Linked DNA regions of Homo sapiens. The protein of the gene in region 2 purifies or fractionates together with the protein of the main gene of each other region. This does not show direct contact. Each region holds a gene or a part of one and is shown on either strand. Other genes may lie near its edges. The genes, in order: ESPN and RAB37.

Evidence for each region.
Region 1: the proteins of RAB37 (region 2) and ESPN purify together in Homo sapiens (affinity purification with mass spectrometry; one large-scale study listed by BioGRID and IntAct). This does not show direct contact.

What each region holds. Positions count from the first base shown.
Region 1 is NC_000001.11:6,455,574-6,458,718, reverse strand, and holds part of ESPN (espin), read right to left. Parts: coding exon of another isoform or gene 2,522-3,145; exon of another isoform or gene 2,048-2,521; intron 1,536-2,047; coding exon 1,456-1,535; intron 1,359-1,455; coding exon 1,347-1,358; intron 1-1,346. UniProt on the Homo sapiens protein: Multifunctional actin-bundling protein. Plays a major role in regulating the organization, dimension, dynamics and signaling capacities of the actin filament-rich microvilli in the mechanosensory and chemosensory cells.
Region 2 is NC_000017.11:74,740,031-74,743,841, reverse strand, and holds part of RAB37 (ras-related protein Rab-37), read right to left. Parts: intron 3,075-3,811; coding exon 2,964-3,074; intron 1,589-2,963; coding exon 1,547-1,588; intron 714-1,546; coding exon 647-713; intron 555-646; coding exon 502-554; intron 1-501. UniProt on the Homo sapiens protein: The small GTPases Rab are key regulators of intracellular membrane trafficking, from the formation of transport vesicles to their fusion with membranes.

The DNA.
Region 1 (3,145 bases), on a different chromosome or scaffold from region 2:
CCTCAGGTGATCCACCCGCTTCAGCCTCCCAAAGTGCTGGGATTACAGGTATGAGCCACTGCGCCCAGCCCCCTGCAGCTAATTAAAAAAAATTTTTTTTGCAGGCCTGGTGCGAAGGCTTACGCCTGTGATCCCAGCACTTTGGGAGGCTGAGGCGGGTGGATCACCTGAGGTCAGGAGTTCGAGACCAGCCTGACCAACATGGCAAAACCCGGCCTCTACTAAAAATACAAAAATTAGCCGGGCGTGGTGGCGGGCGCCTGTAATCCCAACTACCAGGGAGGCTGAGGCAGGAGAATCACTTGAACCCAGGAGGTAGAGGTTGCAGTGAGCCAAGATTGTGCCACTGTACTCCAGCCTGGACAACAAGAGCAAAACTCTGTCTCAAAAAAAAAGAAAAAAGCCAGACTTGGTGGCTCATGCCTATAATCCCAGCACTTTGGGAGGCCGAGGCGGGTGGATCGCTTCAGGTCAGGAGTTTGAGACCAGCTTGGCCAACATGGTGAAACCCCATCTCTACTAAAAATACAAAATTAGCTGGGTGTGGTGGCACACGCTTGTAATCCCAGCTACTTGGGAGGCTGAGGCAGGAGAATCACTTGAACCCAGGAGGCAGAGGTTGCATGAGCCCAGATCGCCACTGCACTCCAGATTGGGTGACAAGAGTGAAACCCCATCTCAAAAAAAAATTTTTTTTTTTTTTTTTTTTTCGCAGAATGAGGTCTCACTGCATTGCCCAGGCTGGTCTCAGACTTCTGGGCTCAAGTGGTCCCCCTGCCTTGGCCTCTCAAAGTGCTGGGATTACATGTGTAAACCACCATGCCTGGCCAAAGACTTACTTTTACAAGAGGAGTATAAAACATCTCATTAATAATTTTCATAATTGATTATGTGTTGAAATAATATTTTTGATATTTTGTGCCAAATAAAACAGTACTAAAATGAAGCTCACCTATATCCTTCTACATTTTCACTGTGGCTACTAGAAAATTTTAAATTACATCTGTGGCTCTCATTACATTTCTATTGGCCAGCACTGGGCTGGGTGAGATGACTAGGGGCAGAAAGTACATTCTGAGGGCCAGACAATCAAGGTGATTGATAGTGGGGTTAGGTTAACTGAAGGGTAGAAAAGGCCAGGTTAATAGGAGGCAGGGACTGAGTAACCGGGAACAAAGTTATTAGAGCATGAGAGAGAGATTCTGGGGTATTATAGGGAGGAAGGAGGCTGTGCTACAAGGGCCAAGAGACAGGAGGATGTACTCAAATTGGCCTGGATGAAGGGACGACCCTCTGCGACTTGGGTGGGGATAAGGGTGGCAGGTTGGGGCCAGCCCTGCACTCACCGCTTCTGCTCCCTGGAAGGAAAAAGAGACAGTGTCACTTGGTACCTCCACCTCAGGGACGCAGTCAAGACACCCTGCCAGGCCAGCCTCTGCCTGACCCCCAGCTCACCTCTCTTCTTCCAGCTTCTTCCGCAGGAGGTCCCGCCTCCAGGCGGGCATGCTGGCCAGCCGGGCCTCCTCCTCCTCCTCCTGAAACACAACCACAAAGCTTCAGGGCCTGCAGGGGCTGGGAGATAGGGGGCACCCTCAACCTCGGGACCTGAAGGAGTCAGGGTCACAGGAAGACATCCTTTTGATGCACATCTGTGTGACAAGTGGATGGAGGTGCCTGGTCACACCCCCTCAGAGCTGGCCTCCTTTCCCCTAGTAACCCAGACCCTCATGTCCTACAGGAGGCACCAGAGAGATCAGAGCTGAATGGGACAGAAGCAGAGAACAAGTAGCTGGGACCCAGAGGTCCTGAGCCTGATTCCCCGCAGAGGCAGGTGGCCAATGGCCACAGGCCCAAGACCTCTGGGCAGACGCAGATGCCAGCCAGCCCCCACCCAGCCTCTTGGCTCAGGGAGACTCAGGCTGCCCCTGGCTCCCCTGTGAAGGACCTTCACCCCATGGTTGCCATCTTCCCAATAGAGTGGATACGGGCACTACAATCGTGGGGCTACAATGACATCAGGGGCAGGTGTGGTGTCCAACGCAGGCAGTTTACAGCAAAGAGTTTTATTTCCTGAATGTTACAGAGGAGAACGGGTCTGTACACGGCACACTTCACACAGAACACTGCACACGTGGCACCCTTGACCTCAGCCAAGGAGGTAGCTGTGAACTCCAGTGGAAAACCAAAGAGCAGGCCACACTGCCGCAAGGAGGAGCCGCAGCCCCTCACTCAGAGGGGCTTCTTCTGCTGCCTGGCTCCACACAGAGCTCAGCAAGGCCACGGGGCCAGAGGCGGACACCTGGTCTGTTCTGTGCCTGCCCTGCCTATCCGACCAACGCCCCACAGCCCGCCACGATGGGACCTCAGAGGCTGAGGCAGCCTGGTCCTGGGCCCTCCGGGCTGCTCAAGGCCACAGTCCTGGGCTCTTCCTGCTGCTTCCAGCCTCTGGAGGGCGTCAGACAGGCGTCCAGGCCCACGTTAAGACGCTCGAGGGTGAACTGAGAATTCCGAATTCCGCTGCTCAGATGTCAAACAGCTCTGCCTCCTTCTCTTTCCAGAAGGAGAAGCTGCGGTCGATGTAGCGGCAGATGTCCTCGTTGCTGAACTCGCCCATCTCAGACACCAGTTCCAAGGGGTCTTCGGCGGGGGCTTCGGAACCAGGAGAGTCTGAGGTCGGGGGAGGCGCGGCGGGCGGGGGCGGCGGCGGCGGCTGCGGCGCAGGGGCCAGGGCCTCGGGCTGCCCCTCAGGCGGGTCCCCCGTCTGAAATGGAGCAGCCTCTTCGGTCCGCTCCTGTTCTTTCCCCTCCTCTTCCTTTTCCTTCGCCTGTTCTTCGGGGGCCGGCTCAGCCTCCAGGCCGTTTCCGAAGAACCGGTGCCTGAGGTCCTCGAAGCCGTCGCTCCAGCCGCGCCGGCCGGCCTCCACCTCCTCCAGCACCACGCGGTGGAAGAGGCGGATGCGCTCCCACGGGTGGCTGCCCAGTCGGTCGAACATCTCGTAGCACAGTAGGTGGCGGAACTTGCGCTCCTCGCGGCTCAGGCCCATCTCGAGTAGCTGGAAGTAGCCGAGCATGAAGAGGTCGAGCGTGAGGCTGTCGTAGTGCGGGGGTGCGCCGCCGTCCAGGGGCGGCAGGAAGTGCTGGGGCCA
Region 2 (3,811 bases):
GTCCTTGAGGTCAGGGGATTCATGAAACCTATACAATGTCGTGAACAAAATTGGTGCTTGAATTTATCAAATTTTTGTCTCTATAATAGTTTGGTTGTGAGGATACAACCACTCACTCTGTCTGACTGAGTCACTTTCTTGCAACTTGCCCTGGATGTATGTGTGGACTTTTCTGGTTGTGTTTTTCCCTTGGTCTCTGTGGATAATTATCCAGGGTGGAGTGGGGGCTGTTCTGAACACTTTGTCACGAAACACACTCGTGAATCACAGTGAGGGCTATGCAGGTGGCACAGGGTCACAACAGCCTGCTTGGCCTTCATGCCCACATGGCCACCAAATACAAAGCAGCAGATATGACTTCTGAGTCACAAGTAGGTGTTTTTCAGAAGGCAGGAGGACTCCACGCTCCACCCGCTTTCCACAGGGCAGGAAGCAACCCCAGCCTGCATAGACCTTGCCTTGGCTGCTTATGGGTGGGAGTCAGGGGAAGGGAGGACCTACCCTGATGTTGTCGAAAGAAGATTTGTTGGTGATGTCATACAGCAGAAGCAAGGCTGGAGGGGAGAGGATCACAGAGGGGACTTAGGCAGCAGCACGGATGCTACCAAGGGGCTGGGGTAGGGGTTGGAGGGTGCGAGGGACTCACCCTGAGCATCTCTGTAATAAGCATGGGTGACGCTTCGGAACCGTTCCTGCCCAGCGGTGTCCCAGATCTGGGAAGGGATGGGATGGAGAAATGGTCAGAAGGAGGCAGGTGCAAGGAATGTGCTGGGTGGAGCAGGCCTGCTTTGTTGTATGAGATATCTGTGGGAAGGTGGGGCTGTTTTCTTCTTTAGGTTCTCATGAGCCCCTGAGCATCCAATGACCTGGACAGTAGCAGTTACTGATTTCTCAAGCTCGTTCAAAATCATCTCCTCAGCCGAGCGCGGTGGCTTACACCTGTAATCCCAGCACTTTGGGAGGCCGAGGCAGGCGGATCACGAGGTCAGGAGATCCAGACCATCCTGGCTAACACAGTGAAACCCCGTCTCTACTAAAAATACAAAAAATTAGCCAGGTGTGGTGGCATGCACCTGTAGTCTCAGCTACTCAGGAGGCTGAGGCAGGAGAATCTCTTAAACCTGGGAGGCAGAGGTTGCAGTGAGCCGAGATTGTGCCACTGCACTCCAGCCTGGGCGACAGAGCGAGACTCCATCTCAAAAAAAAAAAGAAAAGAAAAGAAAAAAAAAGAATCTTCTCCTCTCCCCTAGCTCAGGGGTTGGGGATGTCCAATCTCCTAAGAGCAGATAAAGCCCTGGCAACTGGGGAGGAGATGGATGGAGGCTAAGCTTGTCTGAAGGCATTTGGAGCTGCTGTTCATAGATGAGAGGGTGCCTGGGAACTGCTTTTTCTGCAGATGTCAAATAAACAAAAGCCATTTCCTCCCGTGGGCCCCACAGGAAATTGCCCCAGGCGGAGGGCAGGGCTGCAGGCCTCCTGTGGTTCAGGGTGAGAAGGAAGGGCAGGTCCTCCATCCTCCCTCCCCAACTCCAGCCTCTGGTCTCACCTGCAGCTTCACTCTCACGCCATCCACAGTCACCACCTTGTTCTGAAAGAGAAAAAGGCAGAGGATGGGAGGGCAGGAGTCATGTGGCTCCTCAGCTCTGCAGACGTCCTGTCTTGTTCCCTCTCCAGGCCTAGAGTGGGTGCAGTGAGCCCCAGAACCGTCTCCAGCCAGATCATACCATCAGGGCAGCAGGAACCCCATACCCAGACACCTCCACTGTGGAGTCGTCCCTTCTGAGGACTGTAACTGCCTTCTCACAACAGCAGGGCAAGAGGAGCCTGAGAAACATCCTGGCTCTCTCCAGGGATCAGGCAGCCCAGGGCTGGAGGGCTGGTTGCTGCTGGAGGCCCTGCCCTTTTCCCACTTCGGTCTCCCTCTCCTGGAGCCTAGCCTTGGGACTGTGACCGAGCCCCTGGAGATGGGGTGTTTGCCTGCATCCTGGGGACCTGAGGCTACATCTGCAGCAGCACCTTTTCTTTAGCTGCCCACTAATTCTCTAGTGAAGGAAGTGTTCGCTTTCTGCCTGCTTGAAGCTGTAGAGCCCCACCTGCCAGGGTGAGACCTTTTCTCTATTGAACACTTCAGGTGTGCAGCGTCTAGCATCCCTGATGCAGATTTGTAAGATGGAGTCGTCAAGGTGAGAGGGAGGGTCCCTGGTGAGCTGCTGTCTCCCAACATGGCCAGCCCAGCTCTTTTTTTTTTTTTTTTCTGAGACGCAGTCTCACTTTGTTGCCCAGGCTGGAGTGCAGTGGCGCGATCTCAGCTCACTGCAACCTCCACCACCCGGATTTGAGCGATTCTCCTGCCTCAGCCTCCCGAGTAGCTGGGACTGCAGGAGCGTGCCACTACACCTGGCTAATTTTTGTATTTTTAGTAGAGACGGGGTTTCACCATGTTGGCCAGGCTGGTCTCAAACTCCTGACCTTGTGATCTGACCGCTTCGGCCTCCCAAAGTGCTGGGAATACAGGCAAGAGCCACCATGCCCGGCCCAAGCCCAGCTCTTAAACCCAGTGCAGGGCTGTGCTTTCTGGGAACTCCAGAAAGACTGATTGACCTTTGAGGCCTTTCCAAAGGGGCCCAGGTAGGAGAGCAATGAGCAGGGGCTCTGTGGGCCAAGATATTCAGCTTATGCCGTGCCTGCGGCTGCTCTGCTTGGGAGAAGTCCCCCAGGAATGGAGCTGGAATCGAAGACTCAGTCTCATTTTTTTGCATCCTATAGTTGGGCAAGGAGCCAACCTTGCCCAGTCTCCTTTGACCCGGCCACCTCTGTGGTCTTGGGGGAGCGGGTTGTGTGCCCTCCAGGCATGAGCCTCGGGAGTCCCTGGGAGCCAGGGTGAGCAAGGTGGGGGCAACCCCCCCATGCCTGAGCCACAGCCCTGGCTCTCTGCTGGAAGCAAGTGCCTGCAGCCACCTCACCCTGAAGTCTATGCCGACGGTGGCTATGAAGGTTCCGGACAGGAAGGCCCCGTCTTTGAATTGGATCAGGAAACATGTTTTGCCGACGCCTGTGTCTCCCAGAAGCATCACCTAGGGGGTAGGGGCAGAGGCAGTTAATGGGGAGTCAGGGGCAGCTTCTGGGATTCCAGGAGAGAGACACATGGAGAGGATCAGAGAAGAGGGGGCTGGCACGAATGCTGACCGCACCAAAGGCCACCTGCTTCCAGAAAGCCAGCCGCCATCTTCACCCTGTCTCTCCTCTCCACGCTCCTTGGCTCAGCCTCCTAGGCTCTCCCTCTGACCCTCCTGTCCTCATTCAAGTTCCTAGAGGCCGGAGTTGAGACCTCACCATGAACAGGTCCCCAAGTGTGCTCTGTGGCCCCAGAGAACCACCACATTTGCACAATCTAGACAGTGGCCACATTTGCCCATAGCCACACCATGCAGGGATTCCGTCCCTCTGTGTACTTGTGTCATCCATCGTCCGCTCGTGAGTACACGCATGGGCTGGGCTATACTGACAGGAAAGGGAAGTGTCAATATATTGGACAAGGATTCCCACCCAAGGGAGTCTATCAGAATCTGCTGGGGGTGGGGCATGGTCATTTGCATACTCTATAATGAATATTGTTTGGGTTTTTTTTTTTGTGTCACAACATTTATTTGGAAGTTTCTTTCTTTCTTTCTTTCTTTTTTTTTTTGAGATGGAGTTTTGCTCTTGTTGCCCAGGCTGGAGTGCAATGGCGAGATCTTGGCTCACCACAACCTCCACCTCCCAGGTTTAAATGATTCTCCTGCCTCAGCCTCCTGAGTAGCTGGGATTATAG